Linked DNA regions of Homo sapiens: region 1 is linked to region 2. The links come from fine-mapping of genetic effects on plasma protein levels. A gene starts in region 2. The other region holds a variant in brackets. All regions are shown on one strand. Distances are between the middles of the regions.

What was found. A credible set is the group of variants that fine-mapping cannot tell apart. PIP is the chance, under the fine-mapping model, that this variant and not a neighbour inherited with it causes the effect. Protein levels are from the aptamer-based SomaScan assay of Sun 2018.
Region 1: its variant is the best candidate, but not a certain one, in a credible set for the plasma level of the TREM1 protein (Sun 2018, PIP 0.84).

The regions. Positions count from the first base shown.
Region 1 is chr6:41,271,155-41,276,499 of GRCh38, reverse strand. TREM1 (triggering receptor expressed on myeloid cells 1) reads left to right here. Exons shown (of 4, transcript NM_018643.5): 4 at 270-2,895. The coding sequence ends at 375. Among named protein-coding and RNA genes, the nearest start is that of TREM1, 13 kb to the left of the region's middle. The variant G/A (reference allele first, on the strand shown) is at 247.
Region 2 is chr6:41,284,672-41,290,053 of GRCh38, reverse strand. TREM1 (triggering receptor expressed on myeloid cells 1) reads left to right here and starts at 3,372. Exons shown (of 4, transcript NM_018643.5): 1 at 3,372-3,447. The coding sequence starts at 3,399. RefSeq lists a silencer at 1,298-1,387.

The DNA of each region.
Region 1 (5,345 bases), 14 kb after region 2:
CATCACAGGGAGGAGGATGGGCTGATCAGCCCGACTGTCTCCCTCCAGTGCCTCTCCTGGACAGGGACCTATACTCTCCACTGAATTGTTTCTAATCAGTAGTTTTTGGCAATGAGACAGACTGAAAAGCACAGGGTCAGGCAGTGCGGGAAAGGTGGAGCAAGGATCTAAGCAGAGGAGAGTGGGACATGAAGGCATTTTCTAGAGGGAACATGTGCGTGTGGGAGAGACTTTGCCAGCAGTAGC[G/A]TTCAGCCTCTTGTCTCCCGCAGGGTTCCGGTGTTCAACATTGTCATTCTCCTGGCTGGTGGATTCCTGAGTAAGAGCCTGGTCTTCTCTGTCCTGTTTGCTGTCACGCTGAGGTCATTTGTACCCTAGGCCCACGAACCCACGAGAATGTCCTCTGACTTCCAGCCACATCCATCTGGCAGTTGTGCCAAGGGAGGAGGGAGGAGGTAAAAGGCAGGGAGTTAATAACATGAATTAAATCTGTAATCACCGGCTATTTCTAAAGTCAGCGTCTCACCTTCCTGCCCACTGCCCTCGTTCCTCTAATAATCTTGGGTGGGCATTTGTGCCTCAGAAAAGAAGTTACAGCCCCAAACATGCTTGGTCCTTCATTCCACCAGCCACTTGGGGTTGGCATGAAATACAGACAGCTCAATGCTTTTCACCGTAATTCTCTTGTGGGGGCTGTGACATGCAGAAGGCACACCTGATACTTCTCCTGCTCAGTTTTGCCCTGGACCATACAATTTTGGCCTGACCTGGACAGAGCTCCCACTACAGAAGCATCCTGCTCGCCCCATGCTGGGACTTCCTCTTTCTAGCATCAGACACTTGGGTTTCATGCTTATGTGTGGTTCTTTCCAACACTCCCAGAAAAGGGTGTTGAAGATTGTGGAACCTGGAGAAATAAGACATCGTGGTGAGAAAGTGCATCCTTCTCAGAGAAAAGAGTTAAACTGAGTATCTTCTTCTGGGGAAATACTGGCAGGCCGAGATGGGATCCATAGGAGAGCAACAACAGACCATGTCAGACATCCTGTGTGCATTTATCGCTGGATCCTGAAAATAGCCCCGTGAAGGCAGAAATGTATGTGACTAGAACGAGGCCACATGAATAAGCCACTGCCCACTGGCAGGAGTGAAAACTGAAGCGCTCCTTACCTGAAGGACCCCAAAACCATATAGAATAGAATAACCAGGAGTTCCGCCTGTGTCTAAATGCCTCTTTTCCTGTATCACACAAGGGTCAGGGATGGTGGAGTAAAAGCTCTCCCCCTGGGAGGCTTCTGGAGGCTGTCCCCATGTGCTTGCCTAGTTCCCCACTCTGCCCTCCTCCTCTTCTCTCAGTCTGCTCCTGGAACACCTGCCTCAGTTTCCATGCTCTCTCCAGTGCCCTCCCCGGTGAAGCAGGTAGGTGTTCAGGCCACCACAGAGACAATCTCTGTGGGAGATTGTCTTGCAATCTCCCACAGATTTCAATCAGGATTTTGTTATTTCCTACTTTGAGCTTTAAAGGGAAATGGGCCTCATGGGTGGGGAAAGGATGGTGGGTCCTTCCAGCCCAATTTAGTGATGCCCAGGGCAGATATTATCCTCAGTTCCCAAGAGCAATCATACTTTTCCACACATACCGTGTGTCTCATGTTAGGTAAATGTATTTTTACAATGAGCACCACTTCTGTGGAAAAAGTTCCCTGCACGGGGAGGTCCAGCTTCCAGACTGCTCCATCGCATAAGGACTTCCCCATTCCCCTAAATGCTGCTCTGTCAGAACCTGCCCAGGTAATGGTAATGACCCTAGAGAGATGATTTCTGAACCGCAATTTTGAGCCCATTAGAAGGTGTGTGGTGGGCATTTATTTCATCCTGATGCTCTGGTGAGAATCTTTGCAGACGCACTAGATCCAGAAGCTGTTAATCTTGGTGCATTTATTTTCCTACCTAAAAGAACCAAGCAGCTCAGAGGCAGTGACTGTACAGGATGCAGTGTTTATAATAATGCTGAGCTTGCTGGTCTGGAACCCCACACTTTAGCAATCCCAGCATTGTTCCTGTTTATGAAGTTGACAAAGTGACCAGGGCAAGGGGGTATTATCATTAAATACACTCTAGGAGAGGCAGAACACATGAGGGCAATGTTTTTCAGAGGTCTTTAGGCCACCGCATCAGATTCTCCTGGAGCATAAAGCAAATGCTTTATGAGTCCAGGGCCCCTGCAGACCTACTGTATACTAGTATACAGCTCCCTCTTAGTGGATCTCAAGCTTGTTTCCAAAAAGTCATTACACTCCTTACCAAAGCCCATGACACATTCATACAGATTCATCCAGACATAACCCACTGCATGGTCCAGTGCATGCTTGTGTGCTTAACTTATTATAGATCAAGTGTTATTTAAGTCCAACATATTAAACGTGACTGAAATATTATATGCACTAAATCGGAAGACAAATGGCCGTGCTGGATACTCTCCCATTTGCACTTACAGGCCACGCCATGCTCCATCCTCCCCATCCTGCCTGGGAACCTGACCAATGTGGCTAAACCAGCAGGCTCCCTGGCTGCCAGCTTCTGGCTGGTTGAGCCAATGGGAAGCATGAGAGGAGAGCCGAGGGTGGGGAGACAGTCAGATCAGGGTTTCTGTCCTCAGGGCTCCCTCCCTGGCAGGTGGTGGCAGGAGTGGCTGCATTCCCCTCTGAAGGCTCCTTCAAGCCTCTCAGCAAACAGCTCCCATCTCCAAGTCCAGCCACCTGTTCCATCCTCTCCTCTGTAGGCCCAGCAGTGGGAATGACCCACCACTATTGCCAGCCTCAGCATACTGAAGCACCCCTTACTGGATTCCCTAAATTCTATGCACATGTTTATTAAATGCTCCTCAATTACCCAGTTTCAATGAGCCAGCGGTGTCTTGCTGTTATCTTGACTGATACAATAGTGTTGTGTGGCTAACGACACAGGTCTTGGAGGAAAACCATGTATGGGTTTGAATCTAGCTCTGCATCCTTGCAGGGTGTCTGATCCTGGGTGACTCAGTTAACCTTCTGGGCTTCAATATTCCTCCTTGCCTTAATGGGCATGATAGTGCCTAACCATGCCAGTGATGATTTTGGATGCTAACAACAGAATCCAACTCTGGCTATCTAAAACAGCAAGGGAATTCTAGGGGGATATCAGTAACTCAGAGTTGATGAGAGGCTGGGGGATTGGGTTTAGAAAATGGGCAGAAGCCAAGAGAGAATGGACAGCAGAGGCCACATGAGACAGTCTGGACATGTTGCCATCAATGCCACTGCCCTGGATACTGGAGGCCACCATGCTATTCCTAGACTCTGAATCCTTAAATTGCCTCTGAGTAAGTAATCTGCAACTGGCCCTGCATTTGAGCCTCATCCGCAGATCTGGGGTCCTGGGCAGAATCATGCATGTGGCCAGGCTTAGGTCAAGTCACGTGCCTGCAGCACAGCTGCCGGGAGAAGGGTGGGAGGAATAGCTGCTTCCATCCTCAATAGAAGGGGAAGCAGAACTCTGCATCTGGTGAAACTCACACATTGGGGCCTGTGCCCCCAAAAGAAAAAGGTGTTTGGTACTGGAGAGTCAAAAGATGACACACCTCCATTATACCATCTCCCAATGTTGACAGGATCCAAGGAGACGCCTGAGTAAAGCACCTGACACACAGTAGGACTTCAATCCATGGTGGTTACTGCTATTACTGTTATAACTGGGGTCTCCATGCCTGTGCCTGGACAGGTTAGCTCAGGGAAGCCCATACCTGGTACTCAGGCAAAGCCCCTGAGTCACCGAGACATGCTGCAGGGTCCATCTTACCTATATGCAGCTCTTGCAGACATGGTCAACTTGGACTCCTTGCCTCAGAACCACCTAAGCTGTTGCTAAAATACAGATTCCTGGGTCCCTTCCCAGATCTGCCAAGTCAGAATATCTGGTGGTGGAGCCTGGGTGTGTATGTCTGCCACACTTCCTGAGTGAAGCCACGTGCCTGTCCTTGGGAACCATGGTGCGGGGTGATATTAAAGAGGGAGGATGTAGCAGAAAGGCTTGAACCCGGCCTTGGGGGATGAACAATGTTTGTTTGCGCAGCACCATTTCACAGGGAGACTGGGGTGCAGGCTTGCGGGTTGTAGGGGTCAGTGGTCAGTGATGAGGAGGTTGGTGGCCTGAAGGGGTGAGTGACGCAGTGGGGACATCAGGTGGGTGGGTCTAGACTCACCATGGTGCAGAAAGGGAAGCAACTGAGTGTTCCCATCAGGACTGTGACATCATGATGGCAGGAAAGAAGCTGTCACAAGGGTGGCCAGCCTGCCTCTCTTTTTCTGCATCTTCCTGAGCTGTTCCCCGAGTCACACTTCCCCCAAGGTTTGTCAATTGTAAAGTAGCCACCCAGCCTCGTGGGGAGATGGTGACCGCGTATGTGGGGCAACATCCTGCAGCAACTACAAGAGGCCCTGGGCCAGCCGGCAGACAGCACATCTGGGTGGCAGATAGAGTGGAGGGGGCAGGGCTCTGAGGGTGGCCCTGGCTGCTGCTGCTGCTGCTCCTGCTGCTGCAGGTAAGGAGAGTGGGTAAGCAGGCTGGGGAAGAGGGGACCAGGGAGAGGGATGTAGACAGCCCAGCAGAAGTGCCCACTAATGGGAGTTTCCTCTTATATCTTTGGGATGGACTGGAATGGGATCAGGTAATGTGGTACAAATGGGAAAGGGAAAGGAGGCAATGCATGCAGACGGTGCTTGTCCAGCCTGACCCAGGAGGGACTGGGCGATGAAACAGAAGCTGGAGGTCCCTCTACTGCATCTTGAAGTTGAGAGAATTAGGTGGATTCAGCAGAGCAATCCCCCAGCACTGTGCTGATATCCTGGGAGATGTAAAGAAAAGCGAGACAGAGTCTCCCCTTAAAAAAGCATTCACTCACTGTGCAGAGGAGGCGTTAGTAGAGCAAAAGGTAAATAACAGCAAAAAGACAGGCAGTAACATGAAAACAAAACTTCTGTGGAAGTCACTCTAGCAGGGCACAGAAGGGAATGTGGAGAAGAAGACAAGAGTTCTGGAATCAGACAGGGCTGGGGCAAATCCTGTCTCAGCCACACTCTATGTATGTGACCTTGAGTAAGGTTTCTAACCTCTATTAGGCTCAGTTTCCTCACTGTAAATGGAACCGACTCACAGGTATCAGAGGGTTGTCTTAAGAATTAAACAGTGGATGTATGGAAAGCCCTTGGCTCAGTATTTAGGGCCTAATAAGTGCTTAATAAATGTTATGATGGGAGATGATGATGATGGAACCAGGTGTAGGGTGATCCGTGATATTTAGGGTGAAGAGG
Region 2 (5,382 bases):
GAGTGCTCTTGTTTGACTGTGTGAGTGAGCTGGTTATTCAGTCATCGTCTCTCTGATTAACACTTCTTTACCTTGGTTTGAGTGGAGATTCTGAAACTCGCTTTGTCTTTGCTGGCTGGTTCCCTGCTGGACTCTCGATAGGGGCATTAGAGGGAGATTGGGAGGCTGGAGGAGGAAGACAGGACATGCTCACTGATTCCTATTTCATTCTCTTTCATTGTGAGTAGCCTCAGTGATGCTTTTCACGGGCAACAGTGACTGGTTCCAGTTTGCAGTTTTCCCCACTCTCAGAAGTAGTCTCATTGGGCCTCCTCAGAGATATCAGCACCAGGGTCACACTATCCTCAGAGATCTGTGTTCCAGTTCCATGTGGGCCCCTCCTCTGAGCCAGAAAAGAAGATATTTTATATGCAATCTCATTGTTAAAAAATGTTACACATATATTCTAGCTAGGTTAGATTAACCAATCTTTATTAAGGAAGAAACTGCTAATTTACCCCATAGTGAAGATCGAGACCTACTGACTTGGGGCAGTGACTTATTGAAGACAAAACAAAACAGAATAATATTGGTATTATTTCATTAATTGTATCAATGTTGAAACTGTATTGATTTCATAATAGCTCTGAAGATGAAGTTTGGCAAATATGGAAAGGTTCATGGTACCCAAAGACTAAATCTTCCTAGTGCTAGAGGCCACCCTATGAGCAAGCATGGAAATGGGACATGTGACCCAGCCTTAGTAAAATTAACAGGAACCATAGGTCACAAATGACAGTGCTCTTCTATGAGAAGCCTTAAGAAATAATATCTTGTTGGGAGCAGTAGCTTGAGAATTTAAAGAGACCCTAATAGTTAGGCAGGAATATCGTCCTGCCTATTCAGCCTGAAGAAGTTACTGATCGGGTCATTAAACTCCTCAGAAAAATAAAGTGGTAAGGATTAGAGAATGCTGCCATGTGCTGCACAAGGAAGTTTTGGTCCATGACAGACTGCATATATGGTGGAGGTCCCATAAGATTATAATGTCATAATACCGTATTGTTACTATGCCTCTTCTATGTTTAGATACACAAATACTTACTATTGTGTTACAAATGCCTACAGTATTGAGGACTGTAACATACTGTGCAGGCTTGCAGCCTAGGAATATGCTTTACTTTGATTTATGTTCAAGTATCATTCTCCCTTAGATTTTGTGAGGTTGAAAGGTATTTGTCTAAACTGGATGTGAATGGAGAGGGGGCCTCCGGAGAGCAAAGGGCCCTCTGTTCCCCTTCCTAATATTAATAGGCTATACCATACAGCCTAGGTGTACAGTAGGCTGTGCCATGTTAAGTTCGTGTAAGTGCACTCCATGATGTTCCTGCAACACAAAATCACCTAGCAACACATTTCTCAGAATGTATCTGTCATTAAGTGACACGTGACTATTTGCACTGTTGACCTCAAGTACACAAATAGATCAGACAAGTGGAGAAAGACCTCATTCTACTTCATTCTAATTTAAATGCAGGTGCTGTCCGTAGTTAGGAAAATGTGAAGGAGCAATCAGCCTCCAGTGATATTCAAGTCTAATTAAAAATTCTTCTTGGACTGTTTAGTTCAAAGCTCCCTCTTAATCTTCCAGGAGCTTAATCCTCCACACAAAGTATATGAAGACACAAAAATGTAGAAAGTATGTGAAATAGCTATTATTTAAGTGTGGAATATTAATTTTGTTGTAAGGAGGGGATTTATTCACTGAAATAAACTTTATTAATTTGACTCATCGCCACAGAAGTCACGTAGGCTCCTCTCTGAGTCAGAAAATGTCAAGAGCTTTCTGTCTATTTTTCCTCTTTAGGGACTGCTTGAGTACAGCAAAAGGAGGGGCCAGCAGATTTCAGTTCAAGCATGTTTGAAGCCTGTTTTCCGACATTATTTGTAGAACAAAAAATAAACATAGTAAAATCTCCACTACAAATGATCTCTATAAAGTGTAATAACATGATTTAAGTTTATGTATTATTTTCTATATTTTATAAATTGCTGCATTGAACAGCTTTAATAAAAAAAATTAAAGTTAGCCTTGAAAATTTTTTTGGTTGTTGTTTGTTTTAATTTACAGACATGATAGTACCTTTTAGCTGTTCCTATACTTGAGTAGCAATCAATTTGGGTGTAAAATATTAGGGTCATAATGTTCTTTATACCTCATCCCACTCTCTCATGGTATTTGTTACTCAGAGAAGAAATCTGAGTCCTGATTATTTCAATTCCTTTGAAGAAACCAAGTTATTTTTTTGTTTATTTAGCAGTAGGAATCTTTTTATTTAAATTTAAAAATTTTCACCTGGAAACTTCCTATTCTAGGTCTCACTTTGTGAATTTTTTCCTTGCCCATGTTGAACTCTCAACCTCCAATTTTAGATTTCTTCTCAGACCTGGAAAGCATATTTTTTAAGATAAAATTTTTAATCTTGCTTGTGATCCACCATTCCATTTTATGCTTTAAGGACATCTCTGATTTGTAGATTGGAATTCTGTGATTTGTCCTCCCTTAAATTTCTGAGCTCTTCTAAATGTCTTTATTCATTTCACATTTGGGAATATTTCTGAAGTGAATCCTCTCCATTATTGATTTGATTTTCACACTGTCAAATCTGTCTTTTCTTGCTTCTAGTACAAAACCTGCTGGATTTTTTCTTCTTGCTTCAGCGTCTTGAACCAAGTTTCCTTTTTAAATCTAAGTCTGTTCTTGTTGGGTGGTGGCAGTGTCCTCTCAAATTGTTTCTGGGGTCCCTACACCCCCGTGAGCTCCCAGGCCATGTCTGTGGCAATGCTGAAGGACAAATGCAGGGTGTGGCCCTCCTGGTGATGAAGAGGAGGTGCACCCCAGGTCACCAGAAGCCAAGAGAACCCACGGGGCTGAGCAGGGCAGGATGAAGCAACATGTTCTCACAAAAACCCTGAAGATGAGATACGATTGTCGCAGCCTCTCCCTATGTGGGCCTGACTCTCTTCACTACACTAAACTGGATGTGAATGGAGAGGGGGCCTCTGGAGAGCAAAGGGCCCTCTGTTCCCCTTCCTAATATGAATGCCTTACTTTGATTTACATTCAAGTATCATTCTCCCTTAGATTTTGTAAGGTTGAAAGGTAATTGTCATTATTACCACAGAAAGGAAAACTGGAGTTCAAAGAAACTTAACTGAGAAGTGAGTCTTGGTCTCTGTATTATTGTGTTGATGTCAGGAGTCAGAGCAACTGGTGATGAAACAGAACCCAAACTCAGTGACTCCCAGGAATGGCCTCATATCCTGTTGTGCAACTTTCCGAAGCCTCTAGGTCATTGTGGTGCCTTGTAGCTGTCCCGGGAGCCCTCAGCAGCAGTTGGAGCTGGTGCACAGGAAGGATGAGGAAGACCAGGCTCTGGGGGCTGCTGTGGATGCTCTTTGTCTCAGGTAAGACAAGGAAGAGGACTGAGCAGGGGAGGCGTTTGGTCCAGGATCTCGGGGAGCCCTTTTCTGTTGAAGCTTCAGAGCACAGGGCCATCCAAGATAGAGCCAACCAGTAGTTATGGCAGACCGTGCTGCTCTACCCAGAATTGGGAGAACATGCAGTGTCTGCACACAAAAGTAAAAGAAGGAGAGAGTCAGGGAAAAAAGATGTCTGTGCATGTCGATGTTGTTAGAGACATGCAAAGCCTAGTATGGGAATAATGATAGAGTAGATCTCATCATGGCATGATCTACAATAAGTTTATTTGATGTTGAAATTTTTTTCTTATATTCCATCATGATGTGTTTGATGTTGACAATCTGTTAAACCCAAAAGACAGAATTGATTTAACAAATATTTCCCAGGGGTCTACTATGGGACAGCAAATATACTACTGCTGAGGACACAGACGTGACCAGAAGAGGCTGGTGCTCATTTTGGTGGAGGTGATCATCCCAGCTCTCCATGGCACGCTGGGGTTGGAGGGCACAGTTGCTGAGGCTCAGCAGAGCCGGCGCATGCCCCAGCTCTTTCTTGTGTCTCCTCTTACGATCCGCACAGCTCACATCTGCACCCAAACCAGAAGCATGCGGGCTTTATTCACTCCTCCTCCTAATCCTTATGAATAACAGGAGGAAAGTGTCAATATGAGTTAAAAGCGAGGCTTGCCTTGGGAAGGCATGAAAAATCAGGGAGAGGTATCCTCCTGGGCTCTCTACTTTGAGCAAAGTCATGGACAACTGCCTTGAAGAGCCTGTGCTCAGACATTGCTCTGGGTCTTCTTGGAGCTGGGGTGATAATCTAGATGGGCAGAAGGGAGTTAGCTCCTCATGGACAAGTGCATTTCCTTGTGTTTGATTCATGTTTTTCTGAAGGAGAACTGGGAGATGGCAGAGGGCTGAAGGTTATGTACCTGTGTGAGAGAAAACCAGTGGTATATATTTCATTGTGCCCTGTGGGGATAGGTTAGGGGTTAACCTCAATGCTCCTTGCAACTGGATACTTATTCACACTTGGGCCAGGACTTCTCTAATCCCTATCAGACTGTGTTGGACCATGTAGCTCAGTGCTTTAGGTGGAACCAGAGTCCTTGGGTTTGAATCCTGGCTCTAGTACTTAACTATGGTGAGACTTTGGGCAAATCACTTAATCTGTCTGTGCCTCAGTTTCCTTATCTATAAAATGGGGAGAATAATGGTGTCAACTTTTTACTTTATAAAGATTAAATAAGATAGTCTTTAAAAACCCTTAGCACATAATACTTAATAGGTAGTATTTGCTACCCTTTTAATTAACATATTCAAAGGAATTCCCTTCTTGCAATTGTGCACAGACAGCTCAGCAGCCTTCATTTCTTATTGTCTCCTTCCTTCTGTGAGAGACAGGCAAGTTTGCAAACTCAGTCACCTGTAACTCCCACCTTCCCTGGGGAGCTGGCAAATAAAAGAGATTTATCTGTAACATTAACTTCAGAGGTTAGGGCTTCAGTGGTGGCAACTTGAGGATGGAGTCTGTGTGTCTTCCAAAGAGCCCAGCACAGTGCCTATGATAGAGAAGTCTCCCAGCCAGTCTGATGAGTGAGTGAACAAATGAGGGAACCAGGCTTGGTTTCAGACAACACTCAGCCTCTGGTCAACAGTCTCTTGGAGGCACATTCCTGACTGGAGTGTGTGGGAGTTGCCCAAGAGGTCTGTTTCCGAGGTTTCCCTAGAAACTGGAGTCTGCTCCCAGAAGAACTGGCTTTCAAGACTGATTTCACCTTTAAACTCCTTGTGAGTCCCTGAGTTGAGTCTTCCTAAGGTCAGGCAGATCTGTTGGCCTATCCTGGGGTGGGCATGCCAGGGGGCTCCATGAAAGGGTAAGCACTTGTCATTTTTCACCAGGCCTGCAAGGACCTA